3 separate regions of the Homo sapiens genome follow, and regions 1 and 2 are each linked to region 3. The links come from fine-mapping of genetic effects on gene expression. A gene starts in region 3. Each other region holds a variant in brackets. All regions are shown on one strand. Distances are between the middles of the regions. Region 1 holds the start of MIR3135A (microRNA 3135a). Region 2 overlaps KAT2B (lysine acetyltransferase 2B). Region 3 holds the start of SGO1-AS1 (SGO1 antisense RNA 1).

What was found.
Region 1: its variant is fine-mapped to the expression of SGO1-AS1 in whole blood (TOPMed, PIP above 0.99).
Region 2: its variant is fine-mapped to the expression of SGO1-AS1 in whole blood (INTERVAL, PIP 0.98).

The regions. Positions count from the first base shown.
Region 1 is chr3:20,134,701-20,145,936 of GRCh38, reverse strand. KAT2B (lysine acetyltransferase 2B) reads right to left here. Exons shown (of 18, transcript NM_003884.5): 12 at 8,885-8,995; 13 at 5,573-5,716. It overlaps MIR3135A (microRNA 3135a), which reads right to left and starts at 8,372; the gene lies at 8,296-8,372. RefSeq lists a silencer at 4,594-4,794. The variant C/T (reference allele first, on the strand shown) is at 4,876.
Region 2 is chr3:20,057,825-20,069,060 of GRCh38, reverse strand. All of the region lies in intron 1 of KAT2B (lysine acetyltransferase 2B), which reads right to left. Among named protein-coding and RNA genes, the nearest start is that of KAT2B, 23 kb to the right of the region's middle. RefSeq lists an enhancer at 9,979-10,148. The variant T/C (reference allele first, on the strand shown) is at 5,127.
Region 3 is chr3:20,169,375-20,177,374 of GRCh38, reverse strand. SGO1-AS1 (SGO1 antisense RNA 1) reads right to left here and starts at 3,089. Exons shown (of 4, transcript NR_132785.1): 1 at 2,850-3,089; 2 at 2,557-2,640; 3 at 125-158. It overlaps SGO1 (shugoshin 1), which reads left to right. Exons shown (of 8, transcript NM_001199251.3): 5 at 716-774; 6 at 2,320-3,126; 7 at 6,143-6,332; 8 at 6,560-7,891. The coding sequence ends at 6,671.

The sequences.
Region 1 (11,236 bases), 33 kb after region 3:
GAACCTCTTCACTTCCCATAACTAGGAACTGTTCCCTTCGGACTAGAGAAGCAGGTAAACGGGCCCCAGAAAGTCCCAAAAGCCTACAGTTGTTAAAGCTTTACTATTTAAATTTTTCAAGGCTGGACCTCCAACCTATTCTGGCTGCATCAAAAAAGCAGCTCTATAATAGTAGGCTGTCATGAGAAGAAAGAAAAGAATAATGCAATTTAAAGTATCATCTATTAAAGCAACACAACCATGACATAAGCCATCACACTGACTGAGAAATTTTGAGAGATGTTTTGTTTGTTTTGTAAAATAATTATTAATATGCTGAGGTAACTACTTCCAAGACAGTGAGGTTATCCCTTTAATAAAAAAAAAAAAAAAAAAAAAAAAACTAAAAAAATCCCATCCGGAAATTAAACATATCATAACGAAATTTTGGAAAAACGAAACAAAACAATAGAAATCACTAATTGCATTCACAAAGGAAAACAAAAAAATCTACTTCCTGATTGATTTCAAACATATAGCTGGTAAATACTGCAGCATGAATATGTAATCCTAACAGTTAAACAAATAACTTCATAAAATGAATGGGACTAGTAAAAGTATATTCCTAGTAAATCTAGATCAGTGCTGTCCAATAGAGACATAATACAAGCCACGCATGTAATTTAAATTTTTCTACTAGCCGCATTTTTAAAAGGCAAAAAGAAACAGGTGAAATTGATTTTAATAATGTATTTCATTTAACCCATTATATCTAAAATGTCATTGTAACATACAATTGGAAAAAAGTGTAAGATATTTTACATTGCTTTATTCATATGAACTCTTGAAAATCAGAGGATTGGCCAGGTGCAGTGGCTCACACCTGTAATCCCAGCACTTTGGGAGGCCGAGGTGGGTGGATCACTTGAGGTGAGGAGCTCGAGACCAGCCTGGCCAACACGGTGAAACCCCATTTCTACTAAAAATACAAAAAATGGGCTGGGCATGGTAGTGCACGCCTGTAATCCCAGTTACACAGGAGGCTGGGACAGGAGAATTGCTTGAACCTGGGAGGTGGAGGTTGCAGTGAACCAAGGTTGTGCCATTGCACTCCAGTCTGGGTGACAGAGCGAGACTTCCTCTTAAAAAAAAAAAAAGAAAAAGAAAGAAATGAAAATCAGAGGATTTTATACTTACAGCATGCCTTAATTTTGACTAACCACATATCAAGTCCTCAGTAGCCACATGTGGCTAGTGACTGCTACTTTTGACAAGGCTGATCTAGATGGGTGCTTTCCATTTATTTATTTTAAGTCCATTTATTTATTATAAGTCCAAATCTTAAAAAAAAAAAAGAAAAAAGAAACCTGGCTGGGCTTGGTGGCTCACGCCTGTAATCCCAGCACTTTGGGAGGCCGAGGTGGGCAGATCACGAGGTCAGGAGATCGAGACCATCCTGGCTAACACAGTGAAACCCCTTCTCTACTAAAAATTACAAAAAATTAGCTGGGCATGGTGGCGGGTGCCTGTAGTCCCAGCTACTCGGGAGGCTGAGGAAGGAGAATGGTGCGAACCCAGGAGGCAGAGCTTGCAGTGAGCCAAGATCATGCCACTGCACTCCAGCCTGGGTGACAGAGTGAGACGCTGTCTCAAAAAAAAAAAAAAAAAAAAAAAAAAAAAAGAATCCCAAGGGCAATCTCTTAAATCGACACCTTCAGAGAATATGCTGAAGACTGTTTCAATTTGAAAGTTTCCTTCTCTTCACCAAGGGACTCTCAAATGCAATGACCTACAGATGGCTTCCACTCACCTCATGTAGCACCTTAAAGATTGTGGGCTCCTGAGAAGTGACTGTTAATGGGAATGGGAGGCGTCCTAAGCTCTCTGTACCTCTAGTAATCAGTATGGAGAAGAGATCTTTTTTAATTTATTGTTTTCATTTTAGATACAGGGGGTATTATGGGTATACTGTGTGATGCTGAGGTTTGGGCTTCTAATGATCTCACTGCCCAAGTAGTGAGCACAGTACCTGACAGGTAGTTTTTCAACCCTTACTCCTCTCCCTCTCTTGCCTCTTTTGGAAACTCCAGTGTCTACTGTTCCCATCTTTGTGAGCATATATCCCCAATGTTCAGCTCCCACTTATAACAGAAAACATGCAGTATTTTGTTTTCTGTTCCTGTGTTAATCTGCTTAGGATAATGGCCCCAGCTAAACCCACACTGTTGCAAAGGACATGATTTTGTTCTTTTTTATGGCTGCATAATATTCCATGGTGTATATGTACTACATTTTCTTTATCCAATCTACCTTTGATGGGCACCTGAATTGATTTCATGTCTTTGTTATTGTGAATAGCGCTGCAATGAACATAAAAGCACATGTATCTTTTTGTAAGAACAATTTATTTTCCTTCGGGTATATGCTCAGTAATAGGATTTCTGTGTGGAATGGTAATTCTATTTTTAATTCTTTGAGAAATCTCCAAACGGCTTTCCACAGGGGCTGAACTAATTTGCATTCCCACCAAGAGTGTATAAGCATTCCCTTTTCTCCACAGCTTTGCCAACATCTGTTATTTTTTTAACTTCTTAATAATAGCCATTCTGACTGGTGTGAGATAGTATCACATTGTGGTTTTGACTTGCATCTCAGAAAGGAGATATTTTCATTGTGTTCTAGTGTATTAACTTCACCTCCCTAGAAAATATCTTCAACTCCCTACCATGACGATAAAATCAATGCCTTCCAAATGAAAGTATGTCCTCATCTTCTTCTCCTGAAGTCCACAGCTCAGTCCTATGATCTACTGCTGTCAGTTTTAGGGTCTCCCAAAGCAGAAAATTTCAGTGGAGTAGTTCCCCATCTCCAATACATCACCCAGTCTTTGCATGTCTCCTTATAAAAAAATTGCATTGAGTCTCCCCATCCTTACTTTGGCTTCTCCAACCCCAATTCCTTGTATTGTCACATGTAGATTAAGATTTAAGAACTTATCCCCCCACCCACCACCCAGCCTATCCACACATACATGTACATAGGTATATGTACGTACACACACACACACACACAGGCACATAGATACCCAATTATGCTTGCTCATAGCCTATTCGCGCTTTCTCAAATAGTGCCTTCATCACCGACATAACAATGGTCCTACCTGTTCATGTGCCCACAAATCTGTTTCCATTGGACTCTGAGCCTCTGCTAATGCAGATTTCATCACCAGGCTGCCCAGTTCAAAACAAATGTCCCACAAAGCCCTGTCAGGTGACATGAGGCCCCTACAGATCCTACCTTTCCCTTGGAGTCAACACTCACAAAGTAGCACTTAACTCTCCACTCTTGGTCCACCTGTCCAACTATACTAGTTTTCTCTCTCTCTCTCTACTAATGACAACTACAACTTATTCTGCTCCTGTATACTTTTAGGGGCTAGGAAATGCCTCAGAATATTCACTGTTTCTTTGCTGCCACCATGAATCCCTACCTTCCTTGAGGGGTTTTTCACAGTTGGAACAAATAATACTTATAAAAAATCAACTGAATTCTGTGGAAAAAAATACTACATGAATCCAAATATATTTTTATTGAAGTGACTTCAGATAGCTTTTTTAAAAACTAGGTTAAGATCTCCAAACCTCCATCACCCATTCAACGGAATGTGTGAGGGAAGGCTGGAGGCAGAGGGGGAGGAGAGGAGAAAAAAGAATGGGGAGGGAGCCTTGGCTTCTAAAAAGTTGACTGCTTTGTTAGCCATCTAAAATAGCTCTGCGCTTCTGGCGTTCCCCTGTAGGTTTGAAGGGCCAACAGATCATGTACAATGTGAATTTGCAGACTCTGCCAAGGGAATCCTGCTCTCAGCTAACACCGTGGGGATGAATTAGTGCTGCTGGGAGGAGGAATGAGGAAAGAGCAGCTGACAGCGGGGTGATGGCTTTAGTTGGCCAGCAGCCTCTAATGCGGAACGATGTGCTGCTGAATCCAGACCTGCTCATTAAGCTCCAGAGAGAACAATGAGGAAAGCCAGCTCTTCAGAGAGACAGGGAGAGAGAGGAGCCCGCTGTGCTTTATTAACTCTTCCAAGTGCCTACTTGGAATTCTCTCTTAGGCTGACATCTTTGAACAAAAAGCAACAAAAGTTGTTTGTATTTTCCAAAAAAAAAAAAAAGCCTTTGCTCACTTCCCCAGGAAACACAAGAACAAGACTGAGCCACTTTAAGTAAAAGAAAAATACTTAATGAGTAACTACTATGCACCAGACACTGTGTAAAAAGCTTTAGGGCTGTTAGGTAGATAATGCCTAACAAAAAACTAAGAACTGGGATTAAGGAGGTTAGTAGAAACCAGAAAACAAAGATGGGTATAAGACAGATGTCCTCCTAAGCTATTTGTTAGAGAAAAGTGCACTAAACGAATAACAGAAGTATCAAGTGGAATTGACGTGGGATGACACAGCTGCAAACTCCACCCAACTGGGAGCAGCCAGGAGGTGATCCTGGACTTAACACACAAAGTTCTTTCTTTCAATAAATGGCCTTTGTGTACTCCCCAGTTCTGTTCTTTTCATCATGAGTGTTTTTTTTTTCTGCCTTAGAAAATTTGAAATTATTATGTATTCAACTCTGTCAACCTTTCCCTTTTACTGCTTCTCTTTTCATTCATATGCATAAAAAAAGTCACCTCAATACCAGATAACAAATCACTTAATACCTAGAAGGATAAGCCTTCAGAACTTGCCAAGTAAAAGCAGAGATTAATATACAGTAAGGTAAATGTCTATGTAAGATGAATAACTGAAATTCAAATAGGTGGATCAAACTGGTGCTAGAGAAGTTCAGAAGAGGAACTGGAACACACCCTGAAACGGTTTGATTTATGTGTGTGCTGAGTGAA[C/T]GGGGTGGCTAATGGACAAAGACACTTTGGAGAATAGTAAATAGATGCACTTGGAGTATTTGGAGATGAAAGTAAAGAGATAAGAGTGGGAACAATAATTGAGGCCAGAATGCAAAATGGCTTGAAGGTGAAGTTAAAATATGTCACCATATTTTACATATTTTGTATTTTACATATTTTGTATTTTACACAAATTTAAAAAGTAATGACTCTTGTAGAAATGGTAACCGAGAAAGGAAACAGATCAAGGATACCTTTAAAGAAATCTATGGCCAGGAGCGATGGCTCACACCTGTAATCCCAACAATTTGGGAGGCCGAGGCAGGTGGATCACTTGAGGTCAGGAGTTCGAGACCAGCCTGGCCAACATGGTGAAACGCTGTCTCCACTAAAAATAAGAAAAATTGGCTGGGCATGGTAGCACACACCTGTAATCTTAGCTACTCGGGAGGCTGAGGTACGAGGATTGCTTGGGCCCAGGAGGCAGAGGTTACAGTGAGATAGTGCCACTGCACTCCAGTCTAGGTGACAGAGAGACTCTGTGTCAAAAAAGAGAGAGAGAAGAAATCTAGATAACCCACAGCAAACCGAGAGTTTGCTATCCAGTAAACACATACACGCAGCACCCAAGGAAATGCAACCCACCCCAGCTAAGACTGGCCTGTACAGAAGGTAAGGGAGTCAACCACCTGCTTACCTCCTTCTGCTTTTTAATGATGACAGAAAATTCTGTGTACGGGATCCGTGGATTTAGCTCACATCCCATTAAAGTGGCTCCTTCATAATCCTTGATATAGCCAACATATTTGGTTTTAGGTATTTTAATTTCTTTGGAGAAACCCTGAAAAGCAAGTAAATTCATTCATATGAACACCATACACCAAATATCTACTGAGTGCTAACTATGTTCCAGGCACTGTGTGAGGAATCAAGACAAGCTTCTTTGAAGTTCTCATTGTACTATTCTGAAGAGGATTAGCTTAAAACCACCCATGAAGTTCAAAAACACCAGAAATCTAACTGTGTAAATAGGAAGCAAGACAACATTTTTTAAATGGCCCTAATAAAATGCAAGAAATATTAAAAAGTTTAAAACAGAAACAGGTGTTAAGTAAAAATTAGGTTTAATTTTGTACTGAATTACATAATTAAATATGACCGTTGCAAATTTCTCCAAAAGTGGTGAGGGGGTCCCCAGGATTCTCAGCAAATCAATAACTAACATTGATCTAAATTATCAAAGAAAAGATGGTCAAAAAAATAAAGTGATTAGAAACTTAATGTTTCTGAGGAAATGAAATCCTTTCTTTGCAGGCAAAAAAATTCCAGACAGTCACAATGTGTGGTTGTTTCAATGACATTAATGCTTTGGAATATACTCATTTACACACTTTAAGCCATAATAACAGACTGCTTCAGAGTATATATTCAAAATTATAAATAATATATTTATAATATAAACATAATTTGCCTTAAGTATCTATTTCAGTTATTTGCAGAAAATTTCTTGAACTTCAGCACCATCGCCAGCAGTTCACTGCCTCATCTTTCAACAAAAACTTATTTTCCAAGTAATTATTGCCATCATCCTCAAAGAGGACTACAGACAAGTCATTTAAGAACCATAGCTGAGATCTTATGCTTTGCACTACAGTTACAGCTGAGGAAAGCTGATGCTCAAGACCTCAGTGAAACAATCCAATTAAGTTCTCAGTGAGTTTTACCATAAAAGTTAAAATGCATCTCAAACAATGAGAAGATAATAAATAGGAGATTATTTATCTGTCTTCAGAGCACAAAAAGCTTTCTAATTACATAAGAACACATTTTTAAAAAAAAAGAAGTCTGGCTGGGTGCAGTGGCTCATGCCTATAATCTCAGCACTTTGGGAGACTGAGGCAGGAGGATCACTTGAGTCCAAGAGTTCAAGACCAGCCCAGGCAACATAGCAAGATTCTCTCCCAACCCCTCACCATCTCTACAAATGATTAAAAAAAAAAAATTGCTGGGCATGGTGGCATGCACCTGAGGTCACAATTACACAGGTAGCTGAGGCAGGAGGATCGCCTGAGCCCAGGAGGTTGAGGCTGCAGTGAGCTATGATCATGCCACAGCACTCCAGCCTTGGTGACAGTGTAAGACCCTGTCTCAAAACAAACAAACAAACAAAATCCAAACCAAAACAAGTCAATAGATTTTATGTAATAACATCTTTAACATTCTGAAGATTTAAAGAAAAAGCCATAAGCAATGTTGAAACAAATATTATCCAAGGTTAATATAGTTATATACTAATAGTTCTCACAAATCAATGTACAACTAAACATTTTTATAGAAAAAGGGACAAAAGAAAATGAATTAGCAATCCAAAAAAGGAACAAATACAAAGAATTGATAAACATGGAAAAATAAATCAAACTTCACATAAATAAATTCAAACATACACAATTTATTATCTGGAAAAGTGGTAAATTTTTTTTCAGTTACCAACTCCTTTCCTGACCCCCTTATACACTGCTGACAAAAATGGAAATTTTTAAAATATTTAGCAACACATTACAAAAACCTTGATTTATTCTAAGCAAATTACCATCAATGAGGGCAAAACATGTACACAAACACACACCCATACACATGCACATTACCTACAAGAAACACCTAGTCAAAAATGTATTGGTTAAATATTTTCTATTTCTACAACAAAATCCTAGGAAACCACCAAAATTATTATATACACAGTATGAACCAACTTTTATGTTTATATACACACAGAAAAAATACTAAAAAGATTTATGTCAAAGCATTAACAGCATAGGTATGAGCTGAGAGGAAAAATAACAGAAAAAATTTTAAAATAAAAAAATCAAAGCATTAACAGTAAATTTCTTGGGGTGACAGAATTACAAGCCATTTTTCTTTCCTTCTTTTGCTTTATTACATTTTCTACAATGATTACACATTACTTTTATAGTCAGAAAAGTAAATGAAAATGTTTAGGAATTATAAATCACTATTAAAAATAATATGCAGTCAAAGAATAGTCCTCAAAAAGCTGAGCTGAAAACTTATTTTAAGACTTATTTAAAGAGAGACAAGTTCTCACTATGTTGCCCAGGCTGTTTCAAACTCCTGAGCACAGCAATCCTCCTGCCCTGGCCTCCCAAAGTACTAGGATTACAGGCATAAGCCACTGCACCTGGCCTGAGCTGAAAACTTCTGATAAGAAACTGCTAGGACAGAGGCCTGGTGAGGTGGCTCACGCCTATAATCCCAGCACTTAGGGAGGCCGAGGTGGGTGGATTGCTTGAGTCCAGGAGCTCGAGACCAGCCTGGGTAACACGACAAAACCCTGTCTCTACTAAAAATACAAAAAATTAGCTGGGTGTAGTCACAGCTACTTGGGAGGCTGAGGTGGGAGAATCACCTGAGCCCAGGAGGTCAAGGCTGCAGTGAACTGAGATTGCACCACTGCAGTCTCAGCCTAGGCACCAAAGTGAGACCCTGTCTCAAAAAAAAAAAAGGAAGGGAGGAACGGAGAAAGGAAGGAACTGCAAAGATGACAGCCAAGCTCCTAGCCCACTATGTGCTGTAGAATCAGGACTGTTTGCAGGTTTTTATAAACTCCAGGATTTCCTTTCTGCTGTCATAAATGGAGGCCTTCCAGAAACTGAATCTGTTTTTCTCATTCACAGAGAATGCTACCCACCAAATTCCAGGACTGGGAATTTCTTATTAGAAACCATATTTTAGAATGTTAGGATGCAATATTATACCTCACTGACAGGTGACATTCATTCATTCTCTCAACAAATAGTTATTCAATACTTACTATGTGCTAGTGACACTCTCTAATCCAGGCTGAAGCTTATTTTTGACATAAGGCTTGTAAAACAAATGCCTGTTCTTATAAGTAGAAAACACTGGGGGAGAAACTTATTTGGAAGAACGCTACCTGAGAACATATTAAGAAAAGGAGTGACAAAACAGTGTTGCGTGGTGAGAAACCAACCTGTTTCTTAAAGTATCCAATTGCATATTCATCTGCATATGTGAGGAAGTTCAGGATGTCATGCTTTATGTGATATTCTTTCAAATGATTCATCAGGTGTGTTCCATAGCCCTGTGTGGAAGTTAGTATACAAACAAATACATTAGACTGGGGAGAAAAATTTTTACAAATCCATCAGGAAATGATGGTGAATTCAGAAGTTTGTACTTTTACATATTTTACCAACCAGGACCTTTCCTGAATGAAATATATTAACACCCTTTCTTGCGTTTCTTAACTTTGAAAATAAGCTATAAAACCAAAACAAAATCAAAATCCTTGCTTCAAAGATAAAAATCATCATTTGAAAATGTAAGTTTCTAGTTATTTGAAAATAACACACCAGGGCCACAAGTTCCTAGCTCAATCTTAAAGATCACTTGCTGAATAGTAATATAAAAGTTTTCAGAATGAATGTAGATTATGAATTTCTGCTTATCTTTAAGGTATTTGAGAATCTCAGAAGAAAAAAAAAAGATGCAAATGAAAAGTGCTAATCTTCACTAGAATATTTAGTAATCCAAGTGTTTACTGTACACCACAAACTGGCAACCCTTCTAAAGAACTGAATCATCACATACATAGCATTTTAAATTTGGTCTTATCAGACCTTTCCAAGTAAGGTCTGAGAAGCCCAGAATCTCTGAATCAGCCAGAAGACATTAGAAAGTAACTAAAGGTAGTCAACAATGTTGAATAAACTCAGTCATTGAAATATTTTTATAATATCAAGTTTTTTCAGTGACAAAGCTTACAGAAAACGTGTAAATCTAATGTGATTGTTTTGGAACCTCATAAAGAGAGATAAAAGTAAATCCAAGTGTCCAGACCCAAATATCTTCACATAAATTTTCTGCAATTTGGTGGCACATTTTTCTAAAGAACTCAAATATATTCCCAGGTATGATCTCATGGAATCACAGTACCTCAAGGTCAGAAGGATCTTTGGAAGTCATTCTATCTAACCCCCTAATCCATATGAGGCTAGAGGTCTTTTGCCATCTATCATGAAAAGGCAATCTGCTAGAACACCGCCAACGTAGGCCAATTCCTTGGTGGTGAGATAGACCAATTCATTTTCAGGCATCATATAGTTGGGAATTCCTTCCTAACGTTCACCCAAGATCTGGTCATTGTTATTTCTACTTATTGACCTTAGTTCTACTCCTAGAGTTACAAAGACTCATTCCTGCTTTTAACAGCCCTTCAAGCCTTTGAAGATTATGCTCTCTCACACATGCCCATCCGTACTTTCCCAGTCCCAAGCCAAGCACCATCAAGGCTATAGTCATTCCTCATATGGCATGACTGAATGACACCTTATCAAACTAATCACTTTGGTTTTTATTTTTTTTTTTTTGAGATGGAGTCTTGCTCTGTCACCCAGGCTGGAGTGCAGTGGCACGATCTCGGGTCACTGCAAGCTCTGCCTCCCAGGTTAATACCATTCTCCTGCCTCAGCCTCCCGAATAACTGGGACTACAGGTGCCCGCCACCACACCTGGCTAATTTTTTGTATTTTTAGTAGAGACGGGGTTTCACTGTGTTAGCCAGGATAGTCTCGATCTCCTGACCTTGTGATCTGCCCGTCTCGGCCTCCCAAAGTGCTGGGATTACAGGCGTGAGCCACCGCGCCCGGCCACTAATCACTTTTTTCGGAGTTTTTTCTAATATAACAATGCCTTTCTAAAGCATGGATCCTAGGACCAAGCATAATAATAAGGGGACGGTATGTCTAGTAAACAGAACAGTATCATCATCTCCCTCTTCTGCAAATTATTCTTCCATTGATGTCACCCAAAGACATTTTAGCTTTTAACTTTTCCCAAACATATCACAATACTGAACACTGAGAGTTTGAATAAAACTTGGATAAAAACACAAATGAACTATTTCTCTCCTTGAGGAGACGATAGTAAAATGGGGAAGATAAACATATAAACACATGTGTATAGAGGTATACTATTCAACAGAGTAGACACTAGCCTCATGTGGCTACTGAGCAATTGATATGAGACTAGTCCAGTTTGAAATGTCCTGAAGTATAAAAACACACTAGGAAAAAAATTCTCATTACTAACATTTTATACTTATTACATGTTGATATGACAATAATTTTAGACATATTAAGTAAAAAAAAGTCAAAATTAATTTCACCTGTTTCTTTTCACTTTTTTAAATATGGCTACTCAAAATTTTGAAATTACTTATGTGACTTGCATTTGAGGCCTGCATTACATTCCTGTTATGCAGCATTTGTACAGAGTGATATATTTGTATCTTCAATAGTGGGCTGGGCGCGGTGGCCTATAA
Region 2 (11,236 bases), 110 kb after region 3:
CACCTAAAATGGTAAAGGGAAAACAGCTTTCTTCCCCTACAAAAGTATCACTAAGATTTTGTAGAGTCAGAGGAAACCACCCTTATTGTGGGCCAACCTCTCTTAGTTGCCGCATAGCTACTTCCAGGAACTCCCTAAGCCTCCAGCTTTTCTGAATAGTTGGTCTGATCCACAGCCCTTTCCCAAAGGACCTTAAGTTAGAGAAAGAAAAATGACTAAATGGCCCCAACAAAGCAATTAAATATGGCAGGCCAAACCTAGAAGGAAAAAACAGTAATAACCAAAAACACCTTGAGTTTGGAGAACAGCATTTCAAGCCAAGCAGTTATGCACACTGACTCATTCTTTCAACAATATTTATTGAGGCCTACTACATGCCAGGTACTATTGACTATGAAACAAAGATTCTGCTCTCCTGGAGATTACATTAGGGGTAGCCGGGGATGGGGAAAACAAGATTAACACAAATGAGTAAATTATAGAATATACTGGAGAATGTGATGGTGCTATGGAAAGAAAGAAAAAAGGATGAGTACAGGGAACTTAGCAGAGGGTGGGATAAAAGGTATAATTTTAACTAGGACTTTTTGAGATGACCTTAGAGCAAAGACTTGAAGAAAGGTGGGAGTTGGTCATTAGGTATCTAGTATAAGGGAAACACAGCTAGCGCAAAGGCAAGAGAGTGCCTGGCTTGCTCAACAGAAAGTAAAGGCCAATGTGGCTACAGCGCAGTGGGTAAAGACGTGTTGAAATTAAACCAGACAGGGTCAAGCACAGTGGCTCACACCTATAATTGCAGCACTTTGGGAGGCCGAGGCAGGCGGATCACCTGAGGTCAGGAGTTCGAGACCAACCTGGCCAACATGGTGAAATCCCATCTCTACTAAAAATACAAAAATTAGTCGGCATGGTGGTGCACACCTGTAATCCCAGCTACTCAGATGGCTGAGGCAGCAGAATCGCTTGAACCCGGGAGGCAGAGGTTGCAGTGAGCCAAGATTGCGCCACTGCAGTCCAGCCTGGGTGACAGAGTAAGACCTTGCCTCAAAAACAAAAAAAAAAGAAAGAAAGAAAAAAGAAATGAAATTAAGCCAGACGGGACAGGCACAGGTAATCCTAGAACTTTGGGAGGTTAAGGCAGGCAGATCACCTGAGGTCAGGAGTTCGAGACCAGCCTGGCCAACATGGCAAGACCCCATCTCTATTAAAAATACAAAAATTAGCCAGGTGTGGTGGTGGGCACCTGTAATCCCAGCTACTTGGGAGGCTGAGGCAGGAGAATCGCTTGAACCTGGGAGGCAGAGGTTGCAGTGAGCCAAGATCGCACCACTGCACTCCAGCCTGGGTGACAGAGTGAGACCCTGTCTCAGAAGTTTAAAAAAATATAAAAAAATAAATAAAGAAAGAATTCAAGGATCTAAAACTTTTCTTCCTATGGGCTTGCTTATAAAACTCTGCCTTGCCCTGAGATGCATGCTAACAAGTAACAAGCTTTAAATTCTTGGAGAAGACAACACAGAGTTTTAGAGATATAGATCTTAACTTCATTGTTGCAACAGACTAAGTTCAGTCAGCCCAGAAAAAAAGTTTATTTATGCCCCTTCTTGTCTTAACATGACAGAGAATAATGGCTGTGTTCACTGGGGGCTCATAAATGGGTGAGTCACAAATCTCATGGCAGGGAGATCTGTAATAATAAGGTCTTATATTTCCCCTACTCAATAAAAAAAAAAAGTTACATCTTGAATATTAACCGCACGTGTTGAAACCACTTGTGATAGAGTGCTTAATGAATTCTACCATACAATAAACACTGATGCTTAAAAATGTAACTGAATAAAGATCTTTTCTTTCAAAACTGGCTGATTTTACTTCCTCCACTGAGTCTTGGGATCCCAGTACAAAGTATATTTTTATTTCTTTTGTTCATAATGACTGAGACTTCCCAAACAAATTAAAATTCCCTGAAAACTAAGAGGAATGAAGAGAGGGAGACAACATGGGGTGAAACACTGAGAAGCATAAAAGTTTTGTCAGCCCCGCAGCACTCCAACTGTGCTGTCCAAGATGTGGCAGCCAGCCACAAGCGAATACGGAGTCTTTAAAAATTGGCAATAAAAATTGAGATGTGTTATGAGTGTTTGAAAATACACCCTGAATTTCAAAGACTTCGTATTAAAAAATGTTAAAATATCACATTAAGAATTATTTTATATTGATTACATATTATAATAATATTTTGAAATATTCAGTTAAAGTAAAAATTAGAATTAATAAAATTAAATTTTTGGCTTTTCTGATTTTTTTTTTTTAATGCGGTGCAGTGGGTTAAATAGTGTGTGCCCTAAAGTTCATGTCCCAGCCAGGTGCGGTGGCTCATGCCTGTAATCCCAGCACTTTGGGATGCCGAGGTGGGAGGATCACACATGAGGTCAGGAGTTCGAGACCAGCCTGGCCAACATGGTGAAACCCTGTCTCTAATAAAAACACAAAAATTAGCCAGGCATAGTGACACATGCCTGTAATCCCAGCTACTCGGGAAGCTGAGGCAGGAGAATTGCTTGAACCCAGGAGGCCAAAGTTGCAGTAAGCTGAGATGGCACCACTGCACTCCAGCTAGGTGACAGAGTGAGACTGTCTCAAATAATAATAATAAATAAAGTTCATGTTCCCCTGGAACCTCAAAATGGGGCCATATTTGGAAATAGGTTCATTGCAGATGTGATCAGTTAAGGACATGCAGATGAAATTATCCTAAGCCCTAAAACCAATGACTGGCGTTTTCCTAAGAGAAAGAAGAAGGAGATTTGGAGACAGACACAGACAAACAGTAAAGAAGGCCAAGTGAAGATAGAAGCAGAGGCTGGATCTCACTATGAGACAGACCAGGGTCTCACTATAAGCCAAAGAATGCCAAGGATTGCCAAGCACCACCAGATGCTAGGAAGAGGCAAGGAAAGATTCTTCCCTACAGCCTTCAAAAGGAGTGTGGCCCAGATGACATCTTGATCTCAGACTTCTAGCCTCCAAAACTGTGAATAAAAAAAAAACTGTATTTGTTGTTTTAAGCCACATATTTTGTGGTTATTTGTTATGACAGGCCTAAGAAACTAATACACAGGACTACTAGAAAATGTTAAATAATACATGCGGCCTCCATATTACTATTGGATATTGGTGCACTAGACTATAAAGGGACTCCACCCCCAAGCCCCAGGTCTTCACTATGGACCCTAACAGTTTAAGCATAGAATAGTCTCAGCATCCCTAAGTGGTCCTAACTCTTTAAAGTTATACCCTATTGATATATATGAGAATCCCTTGAGTTTTCCTTACTTGTTTCAGTATTTTTTGCAGGATATGAAAATTGGTTCTTGCATGTGTGCATGCTCCATGGGACACCTAACAACCTAAGTGTACAAAATTTTTAATATATATGGGACTCGTTACTTGATTTGCTAAAAAGGACATACTGTGTCCTTTAAAAAACAGTCAATGCTCTTATCCTTGACTGCCAGCAAAGCATTTTCTGCCAAGTTTTCTGAGCTGCTGCTACCATGCCCTCCACTTTGGCCTTCATCTCCCCATTCCAATGTTCAGGCCTGGCCACTGTTCTTCGAGATAAGAGGTCTCCTTTCAAAACACCTTTCCCATGTCTCTCCTTAATTAGGCATGACAGCTGCTGTCTAAGGGAACTCCCAAGGGAGTTGGCCTTGCAGCTTTAATGAAGTACCAGCTGAAGGACAACCTTTTAGGGAGTGCACTGCCAAGCCAATTACTGTAGCAGCTAGCAACCTGGGCACAGGGAGGGGAAAGCTACCCAGATGACTTCATCCCCCCAAGAGCACATCTCTGCAGACATTGCAGAACCAAGAAAGAAGAAAAGGCCACTGCACTACTTTCAACAGGACTGGGATAATGTTTTCATCCCAACAGGATCCAGGGTTAGAGGTCAATAGTATGCAACCGATGTTGTTATAGTATGCAGAAACCAGGATGGATGATGAGAAAGAAGATAAACTGGATAAACAAGTAGTCACAACCCAGATTACAGACAGACAAGGGGTGGAGAGCTCACAGTTCACGCAGTGTTAATGAGTGAGATGGGTGTGAAGATATTTGAGTGGCATCCAGAGGAACAGGAGAAAGACAGCCAGCTGTCTAGCAAAATTCTGTCATGCTTAAAATATTGGAAAGTCGCATTTGTTGGAAAACTTAAATTAGTGTCAAGGATGTCCCACAGCAAGAACACGTTGATGGAAAATTTATTCAGTATAACTGATCCAACATTTATTTAGCACCCAAAATTAAAAATGTACATGTACTCTTATCTCACTCGATGTAAGTAAAGTATGAATTATTGCCATTATTAAAAGAGAAAGCTGAGGCTCTAGGTGATAAGAGACTTGCCTGGGGTTACTCATTCTACCCTGCAGATGCACAAAATGTGTCCAGGCAGGTAACTGGCACTGTGGTTGTGAGAGAGGAAGGACTCACTCTTATTCACTACCTCTCTGCTCCATGCTGGACAAAGTCATAATGTTTAAATGTCAAGGATCAAAACCGTAACTTCTCACCCAATAAGATCTCTCTAACCAAATATAGATAGGAGGAGTAAATTCTGGTGTTCTATCGCACAGCAGAGTGACTATAGTTAACAATAATATATTGCATATTACAAAATAGCTACAAGAGAGGATTTTGAATGTTCTCATCACAAAGAAATGACAAGTGATTGAGGTGATGAACATGCTAATTACACTGATTTGGCCATTACACAATGTATACATGTTTCAAAACACCACACTATGCCCCCATCAATATGTATAATTATTAGGTGTCAATTAAACACAAAATAAGTTCTTTTTTCAAAAGGAGCTGACAATAACAAATTATCAGGCATGTGAAAAATTGGAATCCTCATACAGTGTTTGTGGGATGTAACAAGGTACAACCACCTTGGAAAACAGTTTGCTAGCTTCTTATATACTAATGGAACAGAATAGATAGCCCAGAAATAAACCCTCACAGATAATGGTCAAATGATTTTGACAAGTGTGCCAAGACCATTCAATAGAGAAAGGACAGTCTTTTCAATAAATGGTGCTGGAAAAACTAGGTATCTG[T/C]GTGCACAAGAATGAAGCTGGACCCTTAGCTAATAACACACACACAAATGAACTCAAAATAGATGAAAGACTTCAACATAAAATTGTGAATCTCGGCCGGGCGTGGTGGCTCACGTCTGTAATCCCAGCACTTGGGGAGGCCGAAGCAGTTGGATCACGAGGTCAGGAGTTCAAGACCAGCCTGGCCAACATGGTGAAACCCTGTCACTACTAAAAATACAAAAATTAACCGGGCATGGTGGCTCACGTCTGTAATCCCAGCTACTTGGGAGGCTGAGGCAGGAGAATTGCTTGAACCTGGGAGGCAGAGGTTGCAGTGAGCTGAGATTGTGCCACTACATTCCAGCCTGGGCAACAGAGCAACCATCTCAAAAAAAAAAAAAAAAAAAAAAAAAAAAAAGAGGCCTACTCAGAAGTTGCTGTGAGGTGAGATCGCACCACTGCACTCCAGCCTGAGCAACAGGGCGAGACCCCATCTCAAAAGAAAAAAAAAGAAAGAAAGAAAGAATCTCTTAAAAGAAAATACAGAAAAAATCTTCATGATACTAGATCAGGCAATGGTGTCTTGGATATAATACCAAAAGCACAGGCGGCCAGGTGTGGTGGCTCAGGTGTATAATCCCAGCACGCTGGGAAGGTCAGGAGTTCAAGACCAGCCTGAGCAACAAACAAGACTCCATCTCTACAAAAATTTTAAAAATTAGCTGGACATAGTGGTGCACGCCTGCAGTCACAGCCACTCAGAAGGCTGAGGCAGGCAGATCCCTTGAGCCTAGGAATTCGAGGCAGCAATGGGCCATGACTGTGCCACTGTACTCCAGCCTGGGAAACAGAGCAAGATACTGTCTAAAAATAAATAACAAAAACACAGGCAACAAAAGAAAAACAGATAAACTGGAATTAGGAAAAACTTTAAATTTCTGTGCACCAAAAGACATACACAACAGAGTGAAAAGGCAACCCAGAGAATGGGAGAAAATATTTGCAAACCATATATTTGATAACAGGTTAATATCCAAAATATATAAAGAATGCCTACAACTCAACAACAACAACAACAACGAAATTTTACAATGGGCAAAGGACTTGAGCAGACACTTCTCCAAAGAAAATATACAAATGGTCAATAAACACATGAAAAGATGCTCAACATCATTAATAATTATGAAAATGGGCCAGGCACGGTGACTCACGCCTGTAATCCCAATACTTTGAGAGGCTGAGGCAGGTGGATCACCTGAGCTCAGGAATGCAAGACCAGTCTGGCAAACAAGGCGAAACCCCGTCTCTACTAAAAACACAAAAATTGGCTGGGCGTGGCGGCGCATGCCTGTAATCCCAGCTACTCGGGAAGCTGAGGCAAGAGAATCGCTTGAACCCAGGAGGCAGACGTTACAATGAGCCGAGATCATGCCACTGCACTCCAGCCTGGGTGACAGAGCAAAACTACCTCTAATATATATATATATAAAATAAAATATATATAATTTCTATATATTATATATTATATATAATAATATATAATATATAATATATAATTTATTATGTTATATATAATATATTATAAATTATATATAAAATATATTATATATTATATTTTATACATAATAAATATTTTATATATATTATATTTTATATATTATATATTATATTTTATATATTATATATTATATATCATATTTTATATATTATATATTTTATATATATTTTTATATATAATATATTTTATATAAAATATATATATTTTATATATTATATATTATATATATTATATATTATATATTTTTATATATTATATATTTTATATATATATGTTTTATATAATATATATTATATGTTTTATATATAATATATATTATATGTTTTATATATAATATATATTATATGTTTTATATATAATATATATTATGTTTTATATATAATATATATTATATGTTTTATATATTATATGTTTTATATATAATATATATTATGTTTTATATATAATATATATTATGTTTTATATATGATATATAATACATATTTTATATATAATATATAATACATATTTTATACAAATATATTATATATTTTATGTATATTATATATATTTTATGTATATTATATATTATATACTTTATGTATAATATATAATATATAATATATTTTATGTATTATAAATTATATATTTTTATGTATAATATATTTTTTCATATATATTATTTTTTCATATATACGTATGAAAATACAAATTAAAACTACAATGAAATACCACCTCACTCCCATTAGCATGGCTACTACAAAAGAAACAGAAAACAGTGTTGGAGAGGATGTAGAGAAACTGGAAACCTTGAATATTCCTGCTGAAGACGTAAAATGGTATGGCTGCTATGGAAAACAGTATGACAGTTCCTCAAAATATTAGAAATGGAATTACTATATGACGCAGCAATTCCACTTCTGGGTATATACCCAAAAGAATTGAAAGTAGGAAGTCAAAGAAATATTTGGACACCCATGTCCTAGTATCATTATTAAGCACAACAGCAAGAAGGTCCAAGCAACCCCAGCATCCCTTAAGAGATGAATAAATAAGTAAAACGTAGTATATACATTCAAAGGGCTATTATATAACCTTAAAAAGAAAGGCAACTCTGACACATGCCACAACCTGAATGAAACTTGAGAATGTTATGCTAAGTAAAATAGTCACAAAATGACAAATACTGTATGATTCCACTTAGATAAGGTGTCTATGGTAGCCAAATTCATAGAGATAGGAATGGTGGTTGCCGAGGGGTTGGAGGAAGGAAGAGGGAGTTACTGTTTAATGAACACAGAGTTTCAGTTTTGCAAGCTGAAAAGTGTTCTGTGGATGAATGGTGGTGATGATTGCACAATAATGTGAATTTCTTAATACCAATGAACTAGACACTTAAAAATAGTTCAGATGGTAAACTTTAGATCATCTATATTTTACCACAGTTTTGTTGTTGTTGTTGTTGTTGTTGTTTTGAGACAGGGTCTCACTCTGTTGCCCAGGAGTGCAGTGGCATGATCATGGTTTATTACAACCTCAACCTCCTGGGTTCAAGCAATCCTCCAACTTCAGCCTCCTGAGTAGACAGGACCACAGGCATGTACCTCTACACCTGGATAATTTATTTTATTTTATTTTTTATTTTTATTTTTTGGTAGAGACAGGGTCTTACTATGTTACTCACGCTGGTCTCAAACTCCTGGACTCAAGGGATCTTCCCACCTCAGCCTCCCAAAGTACTAAGATTACAGGCCATGAGCTACCATGCCCAGCATTACCACAGTTTGTTGTTTGTGTGTTTGTTTGTTTGTTTTTAGACAGAGTTTCTCTCTTGTTGCCCAGGCTGGAGTGCAATGGCGTGATCTCAGCTCACTGCAACCTCCGCCTCCTGGGTTTAAGAGATTCTCCTGCCTCAGCCTCCCCAGTAGCTGGGATTACAGGCATGCACCACCATGCCCAGCTAATTTTGTATTTTTAGTAGAGACAGGGTTTCTCCCTGTTGGTCAGGTTGGTCTCAGACTCCCGACCTCAGGTGATCCGCCCGCCTTGGCCTCCCAAAGTACTGGGACTACAGGCGTGAGCCACCATGCCCAGCCCACAGTTTTTTAAGAAACAACAATTTTTTCAAAAAGTTAAACATAAATTTACCACATGACCCAGCAAATCCACTAAGTATCTACCCAAGAGAAACAGAAATATATCCATACTAAGACTTGCATGCAGATGCCTCAGCAACATTATTCATGATAGCCAAAAGGCAGAAATAATCTAAATGCCCATCAACTAGTTAACGCATAAGCAAAATGTGTTCTAGTCATATAACGGATTATTACTTGCAATGAAAGATAAAGAAGTGCTGACATATGCTACAACATGGATGTATCTCAAACACATTACACTCGGCATAAGAAGCCCATCATAAAAGGCCACATACTGTATACTTCCATTTACATGACCATCCAGAAAAGGCAAATTTATAGAGACAGAAAGATTAGTGGTCATCTGGGGTGGGGGGTAGGAACAGGGTTAACTGTAAATGGACCCAAGGATCCTTTGGAGGTGATGGAAATCTTCTAAAAGGTAGATTGTGGTGATGATTGTACAACTTGTCAATTTCTTAAAAATCATTGAATTGTACACTTAAAACTAGAGAATATTATGGTACCTAAATCATAACTCAGTAAAGTTTTTTTTGTTTTTGTTTTTGTTTTGAGATGGAGTCTCGCTCAGTCGCCCAGGCTGGAATGCAGTGGTACGATCTCGGCTCACCGCAAGCTCCACCTCCCAGGTTCACGCCATTCTCCTGCCTCAGCCTCCCAAGTAGCTGGGACTACAGGCGCCCGCCACCACACCTGGCTAATTTTTTGTATTTGTAGTAGAGGTGGGGTTTCACCGTGGTCTCGATCTCCTGACCTCGTGATCCACCTGCCTCGGCCTCCCAAAGTGCTGGGATTACAAGCGTGAGGCACCACGCCTGGCCTTTTTTTTTTTTTTTTTTTTTTTGAGACAGAGTCTCTGTCGCCCAGGCTGGAGTACAGTGGCATGATGATCTCAGCTCACTGCAACCTCCGCCTCCCAGGTTCAAGCGATTCTCCTGCCTCAGCCTCCCGAGTAGCTGGGACTACTAGACGCATGCCACCACGCCTGGCTAATTTTTGTATTTTTAGTAGAGACGGGGTTTCACCATGTTGGCCAGGCTGGTCTCGAACTCCCGACCTCAAGTGATCTGCCCACCTCAGCCTCCCAAAGTGCTGGGATTACAGGTGTGAGCCACATGCCCAGCAAGATATTTTAATAATATTTTTAAAAAACAACACCTGGAGTCCACTGTAAGCAGCTGGGATTGCCAGAAGTTTTCTCTTTGGAAATGAGCAGTTTGAATTATGCTGATGTAATTAGGAGTAGTGCTTCTCAAACTCCAATCTACTCAGGAATCACCTGGAGATCTCATCAAAATGAAGATTAAGATTCAGTGGGTGTCGGGTGGAACCTGAGATTCTACATTTCTAAAAGTTCCTGGGTGAAGACCACTCTTTGAGTAGCCAAGATTTGAAGAGATAAAGATGGTTTGACTTCAGCAACACCTTTCTCTTCTCCCTGAATTAACTTTAGCTTTTCATATACAGATTAAATGGTTCAGTAATCCTTCCCTGGGACACAAGCCCTTTTTCTTCCTCCACTGTGTGACAATCCTTCCAGTTCACACAGTTGTACATGGAAGGCCAGCAGAAGATACCATAATGCTATGACTTCAAGCTGGGATTTTTAAACTATGGGAACTTTAAAAATCTGACACAAGTGAAAAGAGGAAAGTATACAGGGTGGGGATCAGGGTTCCCTCAGGAGAACAAAACTGCCTGGGATTGAGATAGAAATAGAATTGTAAGAGAGAAAAGATAACTAGTGAGGTAATTCACTATCAGAAGCATCTCTGAAAACCTTTTTTTTTTTTTTTTTTTTTTGAGACAGAGTCTCGCTCGTTGCCCAGGCTACGGTGCAGTGGCGCAATCTCGGCTCACTGCAATGTCCGCCTCCCAGGTTCAAGCAATTCTCCTGCCTCAGCCTCCCGAGTAGCTGAGATTATTGCCCACCAACACACCCAGCTAATTTTTGTATTTTTAATAGAGACGGGGTTTCACCATGTTGGCCAGGCTGGTCTTGAACTCCTGACCTCAGGTGATCTGCCTGCCGTGGCCTCCCAAAGTGCTGAGATTACAGGCGTGAGCCACCGCACCTGGCTGAATACCTTAATTTATGAGTGCCATTTTGGTCTGTGAAGCCACAAGGAATCAAAAAAACAAATATTAAAGAGTGGTCAAGGCTACAGAAAGAGAGTGGAAAGCATATCATGAGGAAATGACCCAAGACAAAACAACCCAGGTATAAATAAACACCTCATTCAAATTCTTCTCATCTATGCTCTCCATGGTTACTCCAAAATCAAATCAACAGAAAATCTTCATGACATCCCTGTCTGGAAGAAATCCTTGTGTTTATGCTGGAGTTGAATAAGAAACTGCCCTCCCTTTGCTAAATATTATAATTAGGTCCCGCTGACTGAAAGGTCTGGAACCCCCTTGGCAGGCTCTCT
Region 3 (8,000 bases):
TTAATCATTAGTAGTTTTTAAACTGTTGTACTTTAAGATCTGTTGTGGGCAAAAGGTAAGATAAGGTAATTGAATTTGTAGAAGATTTCTAAAGTAGTTATTATTTACCACAGCCATTACTTACCTAAATCTGTTTAATGTCTAGAGTAGAAAATTCTCTACAGAGAATAAAGAATAAAATTACAATTAGAATGAAACTGCCAGTAATAGTGTTAGAGTATAAAGAACACTTCATGTTTCATGAACCAAAGAACAACATTTGTAAAGAAAATGAACAATGTTAACTTCAGAAGAGTTCAATAGTTAAGCACCATAAAAGCATATATTACCAACAAATCACAGCTCTGCTAATGATAAAGCAGGCTCCTAAAGAGTTGAGTGATCAAACTACATTTTTTAAAAAACATTTAACAAATTAATTCTCATGGGCTGTTTCCGTAGTTAAATTGAGTTATATAATGTGTTTTCAGGTGGAACTCTCCAACTTGATAGGTTGGTTCTTCAAGTGGGAATTGAATGTCAGTCATAACAAATCAGTCTCCCTGTAATCAGCATAAGTGTCCTTTGGTTTCCTTTGATACAGAATAGATGTATTGATTTGAAATCGAATTATGAAATGATACTAAAGGAAAGAAAAATTATAATTTAGGAAAATACTGAATTTGTTTTTATTACATAATTGTTAAATTTCTGTTTTTCATTGGTATTTTCTAAGGCAAATTCCTCTTGAAGAAACTGAACTTCCAGGACAAGGAGAATCATTTCAAATAGAAGGTAATTCAAGTGAAAATCTAAAAATATTATTAAGGGCAAAATAAGGTCTTTGAGAACAAATAATACAATTAAATTTATCTAATTCTTTTTTTTTAACTTTTTAAATTTGTTCATCTGGTATTCTGCTCAAAGCAAATCTGTTTATTTTACACAGAGTAATAGAGTGTTAAAATATATTTATTGTGTCAAATCTGTAATCTGAATCTTTGGCTATAACTATGGCAGCAATTTACTGATTGCTACTACGTGTCAAGCTCTATGTTAGGCATTTTATGTGCATAATCTCACCTAACCCTCACAACAACCTAGGACTATAAGTACAGTTAGTCCTGTTTTATAGGAACTCAAGAAGGTAAAATATCTCACATGAAGAAGTCTAGATGTTAACAGCTAGCATTTAAAATCAAAGTTGAACTCCAAAGCCATCCCTTTCTTACTACTTTTAAATTGATATGTCCATGTTCTCAAGTGTCAATCTCCTCCACTTGAACCAAGCATTGAAGAAAGGATAGTATTTGAATAAGCAAAACCAGACGTCGAAGGAAGGATAGTATTTGAATAAGCAAAACCAGACATAGCCCCACTTTTCCTTAAAATACAAATTATATTTCTTACCTGAGAAGCTTTCTAGTTATTCAAATCTTATTTATTTTTCAAAGAACAACTTAGCTCCCACTTTCTCATTTGTCCCACTTTGGAATATGCGGTTCTACTTCTCTGAATCTGTACTCAATGATACATATAGACTATTCATTTTCTTTAAACCAAGAGCACATAAAAGCCTGTTATAATTTTTTTTTTTTTTGACAGTCTTGCTCTGTCGCCCAGGCTTGGAGAGCAGTGGTGCGATCTCAGCTCACTACAAGCTCTGCCTCCTGGGTTCACGCCATTCTCCTGCCTCAGTCTCCCGAGTAGTTGGGACTACAGGCACCCACCACCACGCCTGGCTAATTTTTTGTATTTTTTTTAGTAGAGACGGGGTTTCACTGTGTTAGCCAGGATGGTCTCGATCTCCTGACCTCGTGATCTGCCCGCCTCGGCCTCCCAAAGTGCTGGGATTACAAGCGTAAGCCACCGTGCCTGGCCTATAATGTTTTTAAAGATTATAAAGATTGAATGTCCCTTATCCAAAATGCTTGGGACCAGAAGTGTTTTGGATTTATTTTTTAAATTTTGGAGTATTTACATTATATCAGTTCATCATCCCTAATTTGAAAATCTGAAATCCAAAACCCTCCAGTTAGCATTTCCTTGGAGCATCATGACTGCACTAAAAAAGTTTTGGATTTCAGATTTTCAGATTAGGGATACTGAACCTGTACAAGATTCTTTCACATGTCAGATATAAGCCATCAGTTGATCACTGACAAGTAAATAGATGGTAATATTTAAGTTCCCAGGTTTTTATTTACAGATTTTATAATGTAGGAAAACTACAGAATGACCTTTTGGTCATTCACTTTTTTAGTTTGAATTCTAAAGTTCTTGAAATTCAAATTTCCACAAAGTAAAACTACTTTTCTCATTTATTTTTTAAATTCTCAGATCAGATACCTACTATTCCTCAAGACACACTGGGAGTTGATTTTGATTCAGGTGAAGCTAAGTCTACTGATAATGTCTTACCTAGAACTGTATCTGTTCGTAGCAGTTTAAAGAAACATTGTAACAGTATATGTCAGTTTGATAGCTTGGATGATTTTGAAACCAGTCATTTGGCAGGGAAGTCTTTTGAATTCGAAAGAGTTGGATTTTTAGACCCACTAGTAAACATGCACATACCTGAAAATGTACAACACAATGCTTGTCAATGGAGCAAGGACCAAGTTAACTTATCACCAAAGCTGATTCAGCCAGGAACGTTTACTAAAACAAAAGAAGACATTTTAGAATCTAAATCTGAACAAACTAAAAGTAAGCAAAGAGATACACAAGAAAGAAAAAGAGAAGAGAAAAGAAAAGCTAACAGGAGAAAATCAAAACGTATGTCAAAATATAAAGAGAATAAAAGCGAAAATAAAAAAACTGTTCCCCAAAAAAAAATGCACAAATCTGTCAGTTCCAATGATGCTTACAATTTTAATTTGGAAGAGGGTGTTCATCTTACTCCTTTCCGACAAAAAGTGAGCAATGACTCTAATAGAGAAGAAAACAACGAGTCTGAAGTGAGCCTCTGTGAATCAAGTGGTTCAGGAGATGATTCCGATGACCTCTATTTGCCCACTTGCAAGTACATTCAGAATCCCACGAGCAATTCAGATAGACCAGTCACCAGGCCTCTAGCTAAAAGAGCACTGAAATACACAGATGAAAAAGAGACGGAGGGTTCTAAGCCAACAAAAACTCCTACCAGTAAGTGATCTACTTGTTTACCTGTATTTTTAATGTTCGTGATAAATGATCACTCCTGATGCTTATATACTATACTTACCATCTGTTTCTCTGGTGGAGGTTGGAGACTTACCATCTGTCTCTCTTTGGTGGAAGTTATGGTCTGATTAAACAGTGGGGGGCTGGGTGTGGAAATCACAGTTGTATTGCTCTGACCTAATTCAGAGATTGCTTGTTATGGAGACAGAATTTTTATTTTCAGTAAATTAGGACTCCCAAGGGGACAGAGGGACTTTTTTGTAGACTTAGGTTGAATTGAAGTAGCTTTTATACACTTAACTGAAGTATCCCCTTGAAAGTGAAATCAAATTTGAATCCAGTGACTTGTTATTTTAATGGCCTTGTTTTATATTAAATTTGACAGGAACCGTGATTTAAAATAATCTTCTAGTTAGTGAAGATTTCCTCAATTGATAGGCTTAGTATTCTTTTGTACGACATCTCTAAAAACTGGCTCAGAAAATATTTTATTAGATCAAAAGTAGGCATAGTTCAAATGTTCGTAATACAACCTACACCTGTCCACAAAGATTCTCATTTGGCAATTTTAGTTAATACAAGTAAAACTAACATTTATAGTCAAGTTGTATCATTTTCAAAATATTGTCACATCATTTTATTTGATCCTCAGAACAATTCTGTGAAGTATAGGTGTTATGATGCTTATTTTGTTTGTAAGGAGATTAAAACCTTAAAAACCAAACCAACTTTCTAAATCGGCCAGTTAGTCAGTGGTAGCAGGCAAGTATCTTTTTTAAAAATATGCTGTAAGCCGGGCGGGTTGGCTCACGCCTGTAATCCCAGCACTTTGGGAGGCTGAGGTGGGCGGATCACCTGAGGTCAGGAGTCCAAGACCAGCCTGGCCAACATGGTGAAACCCCATCTCTACTAAAAATACAAAAAAATGAGCCAGGCCTGGTGGTATGTGCCGGTAATCCCAGCTACTCGGGAGGCTGAGGCAGGAGAAAAAGAATTGCTTGTACCCAGGAAACAGAGGTTGCAGTGAGCCGAGACCATGCCATTGCGCTCCAGCCTAGGCAACAAGAGCGAAACTCAGTCTCAAAAAAAAAAAAAGCAAAAATGCTATAATGATGTTAGAATAAATCAAACATGATTGTCAAAGTGTTGATAATTATTGGACCTGGGTAACTCAGAGTTTATTATACTGTTATTGCCATCTTTGTGTACATTTAAAAATGTCCAGAAAAAGTTGGGATTTTTTTGTTGTTGTTCACTTTTTAATTGAGACAGGGTCTTGCTCTATCACCTCGGCTGGAGGGCAGTGGCACTGTCATGGCTCACTGCAGTCTCAACCTCCCAGGCTCAAGTGATTCTTCCACCTCAGCCTCCCCAGTACTTGGGACTACAGGCATGCGCCATCACACCTGGCTAATTTTTTTTTTTTTTTTTTTTTTTTACTTTTTGTGAAGATGAGGTCTCACTGTGTTGCCAGGGTGGTCTCAAATTCCTGGGCTAAAGCAGTCCTCCTGCCTTGGCCTTACAAAGTGCTGGGATTACAGATGTGTGAGCCTGTATCCATAAAAATACATAAAATACATAAAAAATACGTTTTTAAACGAAAAAAATATACTCTAAAATGGTATTACTCAGAGTTTAATCCCTAGACGTCTTTTAAGAAATGCAGAATCTCAGGCCATACCCCATACCGTGGAGTCAGAATCTGCATCTTTTTTTTTTTTTTTTTTTTGAAACAGAGTTTCACTCTTGTTGCCCAGGCTACAGTGCAGTGGCACGATCTCAGCTCATCCCAACCTCCGCCTCCTGGGTTCAAGCGATTCTCCTGCCTCAGACTCCCGAGTAGCTGGGATTACAGGCATGTGCCACCACGCCCAGCTAATTTTGTATTTTTAGTAGAGACAGGCTTTCTCCATGTTAGTTAGGCTGGCCTCAAACTGCCAACCTCAGGTGATCCGCCCACCTCGGCCTCCCTAAGTGCTGGGATTACTGGCGTGAGCCACCGTGCCTGGCCATTAAGAAGTCCTCCTGTGGATTCATATACACATTAAAGTTTGAGAAGCATTTTTCCAGAATATAGCAACTGATCTGATATTGTTCCAAACAACATATTTCTCAAACTGAAAGTTGGAATAATTAATACAGTACAGTATATTTATGTGGGAACAAAAAGGACAGACTATAAAACCCAGATAACACTGGAGCATATGGCTCTTAGTATACAATCATTTCACAGTTATAGTTTTTACTTTTTTGGGGATACAGTTTGCTTTTTAAAGCTATTTGAGGAGATTGTTTTGCAGTGTCTTTACTATGTGTTGGACATTTGCCTCCCAATATAGGTGTAACTTCAAAGTATAATAACTTGGATGTTTATGATGGGAAAAACACTGAGTAACTTTTTTACATGCTAGCTTTTCTCCTGGTGTACACAGAGGCTGTTATTTAGAATTCTCATTTATTTAATAGAAGGAGTTTTAGCGGCTTTATAAGACTATAGGAAGAGACTTGATAATAAACCTTGGTATTGAAAGAGAGAGGACTTGATTCCAAATAGCAAGGTATGACTAAAATGAAATTCCATGGTTAAACAAAGTTATTATGCCCAAGCTATCCTAGAAGAATTTTAAGTTTTAGTAAAGTGTTCTGTTATAATTAATATTTCAACACTGTCTGGTTTGAAAGGAAGAGGAAAAAATGATGAAAAAGCTAAAAAAAGAATTTATTATTGGCTGGGCATGGTGGTGCATACCTGTAGTCCCAGCTACTTGGAAGACTGAAGTGGGAGGATTGCTTGAGACCAGGAGGCAGAGGTTGCAGTGAGCTGAGATCACACCACTGCACTTCAGCCTGGGCAACACAGTGAGAGCCCATCTAAAAAAAAATTCTATTATTAAATGCTGGATTTTGTGTACAGTTAAGATATATACAATTGAGTACAATTTAAGTTTTTGTGTGGGTTTTTTTTTTTAAATCATATTCAGTAAAAATTGTTTTGTAGCTACACCACCTGAAACTCAGCAGTCACCTCATCTTAGCCTGAAGGATATCACCAATGTCTCCTTGTATCCTGTTGTGAAAATCAGAAGACTTTCTCTTTCTCCAAAAAAGAATAAAGCAAGCCCAGCAGTGGCTCTGCCTAAACGTAGGTGCACAGCCAGCGTGAACTATAAGGAGCCCACCCTCGCTTCGTAAGTATTTGGTTTGTGGGAACTTATTTTTAATGATACATGTCGGGGGGAATAAGGTTATGGAGCTTTGTTCAAGAATGAGTTTTTTCTGAAATATAAACATTTGATTTAAAAAAACTGAAGTGAGAACATTTAAAATTGGTGTGTTTTACCATAACTTGGTAGGGAAGAGTAAGTTAATATTGGGATGCTTACATTATGCCTGAGATCTCTTTTTACTCTTACAGGAAACTGAGAAGAGGGGACCCTTTTACAGATTTGTGTTTTTTGAATTCTCCTATTTTCAAGCAGAAAAAGGATTTGAGACGTTCTAAAAAAAGTATGAAACAAATACAATGAAGGTTTTGTTGGATATTGTTTAAATTCAATCTACACCTCTTTCTGTTGCTTCAGGAGAGGATCTGTAAGAGTACACAAACAGAGTGAGCCATTGCCATAGAATATTCTCTTGACAGGACCCTAGCTCATAAACATTTCTTCAGAACTATACTTCAAATGGGATGCTTTGTATTAAAACTTTAATAAATTTAATTTATTTTTTCTTTTGAATATAAATAACTGAGCTTAAGCATTATCATCATATCGATTTCTTATGCTGCCTAAACCTCTTAATTTTAGTCGAAATATATCTTTTTTTTTTTTTGGAGGCGGAATTTCATTCTTGTTGCCCAGGCTGGAGTGCAATGGCACGATCTCAGCTTACCGCAACCTCCGCCTCCCAGGTTCAAGCGATTCTCCTGCCTCAGACTCCCGAGTAGCTGGGACTACAGGCATGTGCCACTACGCCCGGCTAATTTTGTATTTTTAGTAGAGACAGGGTTTCTCCATGTTGGTCAGGTTGCTCTCAAACTCCCAACCTCAGGTGATCTGCCCACCTCGGCCTCCCAAAGTGCTGGGATTACTGAGCCACTGTGCCCAGCCCAAAATGTATCTTATACAAACATTGTAGAAATGAATAATGATTACTCAAATAAGATCTTTTAATTATAAGCTTCTGGCATCTCTATTTTTCCCTTAAGTAGGGGATACTAAAGTGAATGATTTTCTAAGAGGATCTTTTGAAACTCTTTAGTACAATATTTGAGTAAAATAAATTATTGTGGATCTTTTGAAACTCTGTGTAGTATTCGAGTAAAATAAATATTTGACATTTACAGTAGGGTACACCCTAAGTTGTTTATGAATTCCTTATACCACTGTTATATTTAATTTTTCAGATAAAATATGTATGGGAAAATGACTAGAGAAATTGATTCTTTTTTAGGCTCAGGGACAAGATAAGTGACTAATTGTGAACCCCAAGCTCTAATTGTATGTTCAGAGTGATGTCTCCATAAAATTACAAATGTCATGTACTTTCAGGGTAGCTCCTTATTTAGTCAGAAATCTCAGAGATTAAATGTGTGAATATTTAGGGTTTTTGCATATTTTTGACCAACCAATGAAAGCGAATTAGTTCAGTTTAGAAAGTTTGATGTCTATACTTGTATATACCTCTTTAAATTTTAGAACTTTGTAGGTTATTCATTTTTAAAGAGCAATAAAGTTTGTATAAGATAGTGATTGCTTTCCTTCTATTCTTTAAATATCAAAAATAGAGTATCTCTCTGTCTTCACTATTCTCATCCTTGGACATTTCCTCTCCCCTCCCCTTGGTATTCTCTTTTT